Regions from separate parts of the Homo sapiens genome. Here regions 1, 2 and 3 are each linked to region 4. The links come from fine-mapping of genetic effects on gene expression. A gene starts in region 4. Each other region holds a variant in brackets. All regions are shown on one strand. Distances are between the middles of the regions.

What was found. PIP is the estimated chance that this variant, and not a neighbour inherited with it, causes the effect.
Region 1: its variant is fine-mapped to the expression of PTP4A2 in whole blood (INTERVAL, PIP above 0.99).
Region 2: its variant is fine-mapped to the expression of PTP4A2 in whole blood (INTERVAL, PIP above 0.99).
Region 3: its variant is fine-mapped to the expression of PTP4A2 in whole blood (TOPMed, PIP above 0.99).

Annotation. Positions count from the first base shown.
Region 1 is chr1:31,962,916-31,965,522 of GRCh38, forward strand. No RefSeq gene overlaps it. Among named protein-coding and RNA genes, the nearest start is that of PTP4A2, 26 kb to the left of the region's middle. The variant C/T (reference allele first, on the strand shown) is at 1,179.
Region 2 is chr1:31,967,646-31,970,252 of GRCh38, forward strand. No RefSeq gene overlaps it. Among named protein-coding and RNA genes, the nearest start is that of PTP4A2, 31 kb to the left of the region's middle. The variant TTTTTTG/T (reference allele first, on the strand shown) is at 1,271.
Region 3 is chr1:31,847,358-31,849,964 of GRCh38, forward strand. No RefSeq gene overlaps it. Among named protein-coding and RNA genes, the nearest start is that of SPOCD1, 33 kb to the left of the region's middle. RefSeq lists an enhancer at 1,429-1,478. The variant A/G (reference allele first, on the strand shown) is at 1,442.
Region 4 is chr1:31,936,818-31,939,424 of GRCh38, forward strand. It overlaps PTP4A2 (protein tyrosine phosphatase 4A2), which reads right to left and starts at 1,551. Exons shown (of 6, transcript NM_080391.4): 1 at 1,170-1,551. RefSeq lists enhancers at 708-757, 1,868-2,137 and silencers at 938-1,277, 1,054-1,225, 1,428-1,807.

The DNA.
Region 1 (2,607 bases), 26 kb after region 4:
GTCTGAATGTTTAAGGTGAAAGCCCAGTATTTCAAAGAAGGTTCTGTTGCTCTCGTACATTTCAGACCCTACACACAGTCTCATGCATTACCTGTCTGGCACAGCATTCATCTTTTCTGCCTCTGGGGTTACTGGGTGGAAAAACTTAAGAAGCATTTATGCAAGTACAAGTCCTGAGGCCTCTAACATTAAAGGTATTTACAAAGATAGATATCCACAACATTTTCCGAGTACAAAATGCAGGTTTCAAAAATATTGCCAAAAAAAGGGCAACCTGCTTGGATCCCCTTCCACGCTGTGGAAGCTTTGTCCTTTCACTCTTCACAATAAACCTTGCTACCGCTCAAAAAAAAATTGCCACAAAAAACTCGAAAAAACAAAAGTATTGCCAAAAATTTGAACAGCGGTTATTTCAGGCCATGACACTTCAGGAGATCTTTCTCTTCTTCTTAGTATTTATTTTTTTCTTTTTTGAGACGGAGTCTTGCTCTGTCGCCCAGGCTGGAGTGCAATGGTGTGATGTTGGCTCACTGCAACATCCGACTCCCAGATTCAAGTGATTCTCCTGCCTCAGCCTCCTGAGAAGCTGGGACTGCAGGTGCATAGCACCACTCCCGGCTAATTTTTGTATTTTTAGTAGAGAGGGTTTCACCATGTCGGCCAGGATGGTCTCGATCTCCTGACCTCGTGATCCTCCCGCCTCAGCCCCCCAAAGTGCTGGGATTACAGGCATGAGCCACCCCGCCTGGCTTCTTCTTTGTACTTTTATGTATTATTTGAAGTTTTTATAATCTGCATACATTATATTTATGAGGAAAAAAAATGAAGCTATTTTCATGAGGAGTCCACCTTGATTTTACTTTCTCCTATATTGTCCTCAAATCACATTCGACCAGATTTCCTCTACCATACCTTCCTTCTTCTTCTTTTGTTTTTGTTTTTGTTTTTTTTGAGACTGAGTTTCACTCTTGTTGCCCAGGTTGGAGTGCAATGGCGCGATCTCCGGCTCACCGCAACCTCAGCCTCCTGGGTTCAAGCGATTCTCCCATCTCAGCCTCCTAAGCAGCTGGGATTACAGGCACCACACCCAACTAATTTTGTATTTTTAGTAGAGACGGGGTTTCTCCATGTTTGTCGGGGTGGTCTGGAACTCCCAACTCCAGGTGATCCGCCCACCT[C/T]GGCCTCCCAAAGTGCTGGGATTACAGGCATGAGCCACCACGACCAGCACATACCTTCATTCTTCAGGAAGAGGAGAATTTACCTGGCTGCCCAGTCCTGCAGGGAGCTACTCCAGACAGACACTCCCTGTATAGGAAGGGCCTTCCATGAGCCTGGCAGAAGCGCTAGGCAGCTCACTACTGTCCTCTTGTGGTCAGAACAGGTCAGAGCTTGATCTAGCAAAATACCGCTCACCCAGTCTACTCTGAAAGTCAAGGTCATCCCCAGAAGTGTGACCTCTGGCTATCCCTGCAGTTAATGTGCTGCACACCAGCATCAGTAGCCCAGCACCCCATCCCAAAACGGGCCATAATCAGGGTTTAGCAGCCTAAGCCTAAAGACTGCAAACCTATCTGAACAATGCTGTCTATTCCAAGCCAGAGACTTTCAGGAGACACTCTTTTCTGACAGCTAGAGCAAGTGATGGAGAGCACGCCTGTCCACTAGAGAGAGCACTCATGGTCAGAACTTGGGGTTTCAGACTGCAGAGAAGGCAAAGTTGCAGGAAAACAACAACAATCATCCTAATCATAAAAGCCCTTGCCCTTGTATGGTTCTTTTTACTTTTCAAAGTATTTCCCAAGGCAATTTGGCATGTCCAAAGAAATTAACACAAGGATGTTTGCTACAGCAAAAGAGAATTTAGGCTGGGCGCCTGTAATCCCAGCATTTTGGGAAGCCGAGGCAGGTGCATCACCTGAGGTTGGGAGTTTGAGAACAGCCTGGCCAACAGGGTAAAACCCTGTTTCTACTAAAAATACAAAAAAATGGCCAGGCATGGTGGCTCACGCCTGTAATCCCAGCACTTTGGGAGGCCGAGGCAGGTGGATCATTTGAGGTCAGTAGTTGGAGAGTAGCCTGGCCAACATGGTGAGACCCCGTCTCTACTAAAAATACAAAAATTAGCTGGGCATGGTGGTACATGCCTGCAATCCCAACTACTCGGGAGGCTGAAGCAGGAGAATTGCTTGAACCCGGGAGGCAGAGGTTGCAGTGTGCCGAGATCGCGCCACTGCACTCCAGCCTGGGTGACAGAGTAAGACTCCGCCCCAAAAAAAACCCCGAAAAAATACAACAAAAAAGCAAAAAAATTAGCTGGGTGTGGTGGCAGGCACCTGTAATCCCAGCTACTCGGGAGGTTGAGGCGAGAGAATCGCTTGAACCTGGGAGGCAGAGGTTGCAGTGAGCTGAGACTGCACCACTGCACTCTACCCTAGATGAGAGAAACTCTGTTTCAAAAAAAAAAAAAACAGAGACAGAATCTAAACATCCTTCAGTAGGACAGTCATTTACTAAAATGGAATAGTATGCAACTGTTTAAAATATTTCTTTATTCCTTTTCCACTCCCACAGCTTCACTTGACTTAACTAGCCTTAAAAAAAAAAAAA
Region 2 (2,607 bases), 31 kb after region 4:
TGAACAATCTGAAAATGAAATTGAGAAAATAATTTTTATTTACAATATCATCAAGAAGAATAATATACATAGGAGGAAATTTAACAAAAGAAGTATTATACAAGACTTGGATAGGCACGGTGACTTATGTCTGTAATCCCAGCCCTTTGGGAGGCTGAGGTGGGCAGATCGCTTGAGGCCAGGAGTTCAAGATCAGCATGGGTGATACAGTGAGACCTCGTAGCTACAAAAAAAATTTAAAAATTAGCTGGGCATGGGCTGGGCACAGTGGCTCACCCCCGTAATCCCAGCACTTTGGGAGGCCGAGGCGGATGGATCACGAGGTCAGGAGATCGAGACCATCCTGGCTAACATGGTGAAACCCTGTCTCTATTAAAAATACACAAAATTAGCTGGGTGTGGTGGTGGGCGCCTGTAGTCCCAGCTACTCAGGAGACTGAGGCAGGAGAATGAAACCCGGATGGCAGAGCTTTCAGTGAGCCGAGATCGTGCCACTGCACTCTAGCTTAGGCAACAGAGCAAGACTCCGTCTAAAAAAAAAAAAAATTACCTGGATGTGCACTCCTGTAGTCTCAGCTACTTGGGAGGCTGCGGCGGAGGATGGCTTGAGCATGGGAAGTTGAGGCTGCAGTGAGCCAAGATTGCACCACTGCACTGCAGCTGGGGCGACAGAGCAAGGCTCTGTCTCAAATATAAATAAATAAATAACAAGATTCAGACACTGAAAACTATAAAAATGTTAAAAGACTTTGCGTCTGTTTTTTTTGTTTGTTTGTTTGTTCGTTTGGTTGGTTGGTTGGTTGGTTGGTTGGTTGGTTTTATAGAGAGAGTCTTATTCTGTTGCCCTGGCTGGAGTGCAGTGGTGCTATCACAGCTCACTGCAGCCTCTAACTCCCAAGCTCAAGAGATTCTCCAGCCTCAGCCTCACAAGTAGCTGGGACTACAGGTGTATACCACCAAACCTGGCTAATTTTTTTCATTTTTTGTAGAAACAAAGTCTCACTATGTTGCCCAGGCTGGTCTTAAACTCCTGGGCTCAAATGCTCCTCTCGCCTCCACCTCCTAAAGTGCTAGGATTAGAGGCGTGAGCCTCCGCTCCTGGCCTGTTGAAAGAAATTTAATAAGACCTAAATAAATGGGAAGACATCCCGTGTTCCTATATTGGAATGAACAGATGGCATTCTGGGGAGTAAGATGGCAATACTCCCCAAACTGATCTACATTTTCAGTGCAATTCCTATCAAAATTTCAGCTGGTGTTTTTTTGGGTT[TTTTTTG/T]TTTTTGTTTTTGTTTTTTGCAGAAATTACCAAGCTGATCCTAAAATTCATATGGAAATGCAAGGGACACAGAATAGTCAAAATAATCTTGAAAAAAAATAGTTGGAGAACTCACTGATTTCAAAATTTATACATAGCCAAAGTGATAAAGACAATATGGTACTGACATAAGAATAAATATATAGGCCAGGCGTGGTAGCTCACGCCTGTAATCCCTGCACTGTGGGAGGCCGAGGGTGGGGCAGATCATCTGAGGTCAGGAGTTCGAGACCAGCCGGGCCAACATGGCAAAACCCCATCTCTACTAAAAATACAAAAATTAGCCAGGTGTGGTGGCACATGCCTGTAATCCCAGCTACTCATGAGGCTGAGGTGGGAGAATCTCTTGAACCCGGGAAGTGGAGCTTGCAGTGAGCTGAGATCATACCACTGCACTCCATCCTGGGCAACAGAGTAAGACTCTGTCTCAAAAAAAAAAAAAAAAAAAGAATAAATATATAGATTAATGGAATAGAACTGAAAGTCCAGAAATAAACCTTTACATTTGTGGTCAATTTTGAACAAATGTATGAAAACAATAACTGGATATTCACATGCAAAAAAAATTAAAATGAACCCCTGTTCACACTATATAAACAATTTGATCAAAAATGTAACAGACCTAAATGTAAGAGCTAAAAAAAGCATAATACTCTTAGAAGAAAACATAGGAATCAATCTTCACGACATTGGATTAAGCAATAGTTTCTTAGATATGATACTCAAAAGCACAGACAAAACAAAAAAAAGATAAATTGAACTTTGTAAACATTAAAAACTTTTGTGTTTCAAAGGACACCATCTCTCTCTCTCTTTTTTTTTTTTTTTTTTTGGTTTGAGACAGAGTCTTGCTCTGTCGCTCAGGTTGGAGTACAATGGTGCGATCTTGCCTCACTGCAACCTCCGCCTCCCAGGTTCAAGCAATTCTCATGTCTCAGTCTCCCGAGTAGCTGGGATTACAAGCACCTGCCACCACGCCCAGCTAACTTTTGTACTTTTAGTAGAGACGGGGTTTCACCATGTTGATCAGGCAGGTCTCGAACTCCTGACCTCAGGTGATCCACCTGCTTCAGCCTCCCACAGTGCTGGGATTACAGGCATGAGCCAGTGTGCCCAGCCCATCTCTTGTTTTTAATTTAACTTTTAAGTTCAGGGTTACATGTGCAGGTTTGTTGTATAGGTAAACTTGTGTCATGGGGGTTTGTTGTACAAATTATTTTGTCACCCAGGTATTAAGTCTAGTACCCGTTAGTTATTTTTCCTGATCCTCTTTCTCCTCCCAACCTCCACCT
Region 3 (2,607 bases), 89 kb before region 4:
GGGAGGAGGGAGGGGGACTGGGAGGAGGGCACGCCAGGGAGATCCCCAGAGGGGAGGTGGAACCAGTAGGCACATCACTCAGGGCCTTTCAGGCCATCATAAAGGCGCTTTGGTTTTGCTTAGAAACTGGAAGCCACTGAAGGGATTTATTATTTAGATTAAAAAAGCAGAATGTAAAATCAAAGTATAGGATGCTATATTGAAAAAGTCATTTTAAAAGGTTGAAAGGGAATCATCAAAATTGACCACAGCTGCCGAGTTAGGGTGAAGGGATTATGAATTTTTTCCTCTATCCAACTTAATGTTTCTGTGTTGCACGTTTGTGATTAAAATATGTTTCTAAGAGTTTTTAAAGTTGTGGTGGGTTTTGTTTTGTTTTGTTTTGTCTTGAAAAACTGACTCTCGATAGGAAGGCAGAAAACTATTATGAGGGGCCGGGCACAGTGGCTCACGCCTGTAATCCCAGCACTTTGGGAGGCCGAGGCAGGCAGATCACTTGAGGTCACGAGTTCAAGACCAGCCTGGCCAACCTGGCAAAACCCCGTCTCTACCAAAAATACAAAACTTAGCCGGGCATGGTGGTGTGCGCCTGTAATCCCAGCTACTTGGGAGGCTGAGACAGGAGAATTGCTTAAACCTGGGAGGCGGAGGTTGCAGTGAGCCAAGATTCCACCACTGCACTCCGGCCTGGGTGACAGAGCGAGACTCCATCAAAAAAGAAAAGAAAAAGAAAACTATTGTGAAGGAGGAGGAGGTGTGCAAAAAGCAATGGAGTTAGAGGCAGGTGGAGGGTGGGGCCAGGACCGAGACAGAAGTGGGGCCAGGGGTAGGGAAACTGGTACAGAGGTCGGGGGGAGGGAGAGAGGGGGACACTGAGGCAGACAGAGAGATGGGAAAAGTGAGACCAAGAGAAGCAGAGGTGAGAAATAGGGAGAGACAGAGACCAGGACAAGGGCAGGGGCCCGTGGAGGAGGCCACCTCCATGGTACTCCCTTCAGGACCTCAACACCCCATCAACCTCTCGAGACCCCTGTAAGATCCACGGGCCCAGGTGCCTGATCTAGGCAGCCCAGCAATGGCCCATCCTCCAGCCCCACTCCAGCATCTCAGGGTCTGGGAACTCAGGAGCCATCGGTGCTGCTTGGATGACCTTAAGCAGGGAAGTGGCATGACCAAGCTCAAGTGTCACAGAGCCCCTGTCTGCGAGGAGGAAATGGGTTGGGTCCAGGAAAACCACTCTGAGAAATATCGGGTACTTCTAAGAGCAAGGCAGGGCTACAAAGCGCTTTCATATCACCTGCGCGCACACACATGTGTGCACACACGCACACCCACACGTCTTGGGGGGGGGGGCACACATTCGTTACAGCCCACACAGAGAAATTCCAGTATGTGGTAAGGGCCAGAGCTCTTACATCTGCTGGAGGCAGCCAGCAAGGCC[A/G]GAAGTGCACCTGCAGCAGGAACTCATCTGCTGAGACACTGTACAGACCCTGGTGGGGCGCTCCTCACACCTGCTTGGCCCAGTTGACTCAGGGCATCCAGGGGGGACAGTTGCATGCACCCTGCTTGAACCCCATTTCAAATGCGCCCTGCAGCTTCCCTCAGCTTTTCTGCCTCCGGGCTTTCTCCTTAGCTGCAGAAGGCCACTCAACCCTCCAGCAGACACAGCTTGGAAGTCCAGGAAGCTGATGTCCCTGCGGCAGCCCTCAGCAATGAGGGACTGGAATCATGGATAAATGCGTCAGCTTTCCTACCTTCTGTGGAACAATTCTGAGGGTATTCCTCATGGTTTCTCTGAGGGGCCCCAGCAGGATATGCCCAGTTGCCTACAGTGGGAACCAGCTCAGAGAACACCCTCGTTGAAGGAATCATTGGTCCTGTGGAGCCCCACGGCCTGGGTGTGTCTACTTGCCTCTTTGCGGTATCATTTACTTGCTTCTCCATCCCCTATATTTCCTGTAGATAGAAGTCCGGCCTCAGGTTCAACTCTTCTGGCAAGGCACCAGAGCAGGCACTGTTGGTGTCCCACCATGTCCCATGGGCCAGTGCTGGAGGCCACCTGCAGACCTTCTGAGTCTTGCAACCTGAGGGCATTTTCTGCTCCTGAGAAGAGCCAGGGAGTTAACAACCCCGAGCAGCCTTTGACTAGCGTTGGGTGGAGATTGGTGGCTAAATAGCCCAGCTTCCTCGCCTCTCTAGGGAAGGTTTCCGACATGTTCTGTATAGCCTTTCAGAGGGTCCCCAGAGGAATGGAGCTCCAGTTCCCGGAGTAAAGACCCACTCATTAATTCACTTTTTATTGGCTTTCTGCCTTTCCCTGCCTCACTTCCCTATTCTCTTAAAGACGGATGCTTTCTGGGATCATCTTCCAAATAAATCACTTGCACCCCGATCCTTTTCCTAGATACAGTCTGCTTTTTTGGGAAATCCAAACTAAGGCAGCCCGTTCTTAGTTTGTACTGCACGTGACACAACTGTAAGGGTTGTGTACTGCACGTGACTTCACTTCAGGAGATACAAGAGCAGTGCTAGGGTGGGCCCATGGGCTCAGGTGTGACAATCTGATCCCTCCATTATGAAATTCTCCATCAGCCTTTCACATTAATA
Region 4 (2,607 bases):
ACTCACTTCCCTCTGAAACTACTCTCTCTTACAGAGCATGACAGCAAGTACCATATTCCAACTCAGCAGTGTAATGTAGTTTGGCGACTCCGGACAGACAAACATTTGCTGAATGCCTACAGTGACACTAGAATTGCTAGTCACTGCTAATTTCTTGACAAATTCCAGGAAATAATAAACCAGACTACAGTTCAATTTACCTAACAATAAAATACTCTTCACCTGAAAAACTAGCAGTACTTTACAAAAGTTTATGCTCCTGAACACTCTACAGGCCAGAGTGTAGGATTTTGGGCAACAGACAAACTTCTTTTCGTTAGCTCTCAGGGGCCCCAGACTAGGATAGGATGGCATCATTGACAAATTTGAAAATTTACTTTGAAGTCATGAAACGTGGGAGAAAAAAATGTATAGAACAACAACAAAAAAACACATCACATCCTTTCTGGGGGAAAAAAATTAAAATCCCAGAGCCAGAAGATCATAGTGCCGCTGGAGGAGACTTATACCCCCTTTCCTCATACTTGAACCTGAAGACCCACGGACAAGATGCTCCCGGAAAGAACTCCCCAACCCAACACACCAGGGTTCACTATCGCCACACACAAAGACCAAGGGGAAGGGCCTCTAGGATGCCTGCTCACACACTGGACACACGCCGGCACACCCTACCACACTCCTGCCTCTGCCACGCACCTTCTCACCGACACACACCATGTTCTCCCCCCACACTCACCCGCTCTTTACCACACTCTCAACTCTCTCCTCCCCCATTTACTCACTCATTCTACCACCACCCCTCATGCCCACACGCTCCCCACACACCCATACCCTCCCCTGCCCTCACCCACATTCCCCCAACATCGACACTGCCTCCCGACGCGCTCCCACTCCCCCCACCTCCTCGCACGGACACTCAGCCCTGTCCCCCACTCACACGCCCTCCCTTCACCAACTCACTCTCCCCCACGCTCGCACAGCTCTCTCCCTTCCACACACACGAGCCCGCCCCTCGCTCACCCACCCTCGCTCCCCCGCCCCGGCCCGGCCCGGCCCTCCTTCCGGGGACGTGTCTCCGGCCTGCACTAATGGCTGCGGCGCCTCCCGCCCTCCCCTTCCCCGAGGCCCCCGGCGCCGGCGCGGGGGCCGCCCGGGAGGGGCGCACTCACGCTGGCGAGCTGGGGACTGGGCATTGAAGTCCGGCGGTGGCGGGAGCGAGGAGGCGCCTCTCTCCTCAGTCACCTCGGCGGCGGCGGCGGCGGCGGTAGCGGTGGCGGCGGCGGCGACGACTCCCCCCCAGCCTCGGCGCGCGACACCCGGCCCGGCCCGGCGGCGGCGGCGGCGGCGCGTCTCCACGAGTCCGTCTTGCTGCTGCTGCTGCGGCCGCCGCTGCGTCTCCTGCTGCCGCCGCTGCCTCCGCTGCCGCCGCTGCCCTGTGGCGTCACCTCGCGCCGTGCCCGGCCGCCGCTGCCGCTCCAGCCGCTCCCGGACAGACGACGGTTACAGCCCGGCCGATCGCGCCGCCACCACCACCGCTGCGCGCGCAGCCGGAACCAGCTCCCGCCGCCGCCCCTCAGGGGGCGCTGCGGGGCGCGGCGCGCAGGGCCACCGGCCCGCCCTCCGCGTTCGCTGACTGGCTGGCTGGCCGGCTCGCGGGCAGTTGGGCCCGCCCACCTGCCCCGCGGGGCGCTGACCCACTGCCCTGGGCGCCTCCCCCGCTCCTCCTCCTCGTGGTTCGTTCCGCTCCGCACTCCCGGCTACGGAAGGCGAGTCCATGTGATCGGGGAGGGAAGGCAGAACGTGGCCTGGGGAGTCGCTCGCCCACGCTGCGCCCCGCCCATCCGCACCTGGGCTGGGTCGAGGGCCTGCAGCCGAGGTGTGACCTGCAAGGTCGAAGGGTTCTTTCTCGCTACTTGGCCCTAAGGCCTCGGGTCAGATCCTGATGGGACGGGGTGGCCGCCACGTCCTGGGCTTGGGGATTTCCAACTCAGAAGTGGGAACCTGGCCAGCTCAGTTCTCGGCTGCCCTTCCTGAGGCCCCAAATGAATGGCGTGTGCATCTTCGTCGAAGATATTAATACGCCACCCCCAGCTCTGCCCACAAGACACACACCCACCCTAAGAACTGTCCCTGACAAGCCAAAATTCAGACTTTCAGGATGTAGGATCTTGGGCAAGTGATTCCAAGTATTATCAACTATTAAATGGAAATAATAATCAGCTACCTCATGGGCTCTTTCACGTATCGATAACAACGTATGAAAACGCTTGAGAAGGGCCAGGCGCGGTGGCTCATACCTGTAATCCCAGTACTTTGGGAGGCCGAGGAGGGCAGATCACAAGGTCAGGAGTTCGAGACCAGCCTGGCCAACATAGTGAAACCCTGTGTCTGCTAAAAATACAAAAATTAGCTGGGCATGGTGGCGCCCGCCCGGAAGGAGGGCCGTAATCCCAGCTACTCGGGAGGTTGAGGCAGGAGACTCACTTGAACCCGGGAGGCGGAGTTTGCAGTGAGCCGAGATCGTGCCACTGCACTCCAACCTGGGCGACAGAGTGAGACTCCGTCTCAAAAAAAAAAAAGAAAGAAAAAGAAAACGCTTGAGTTGAG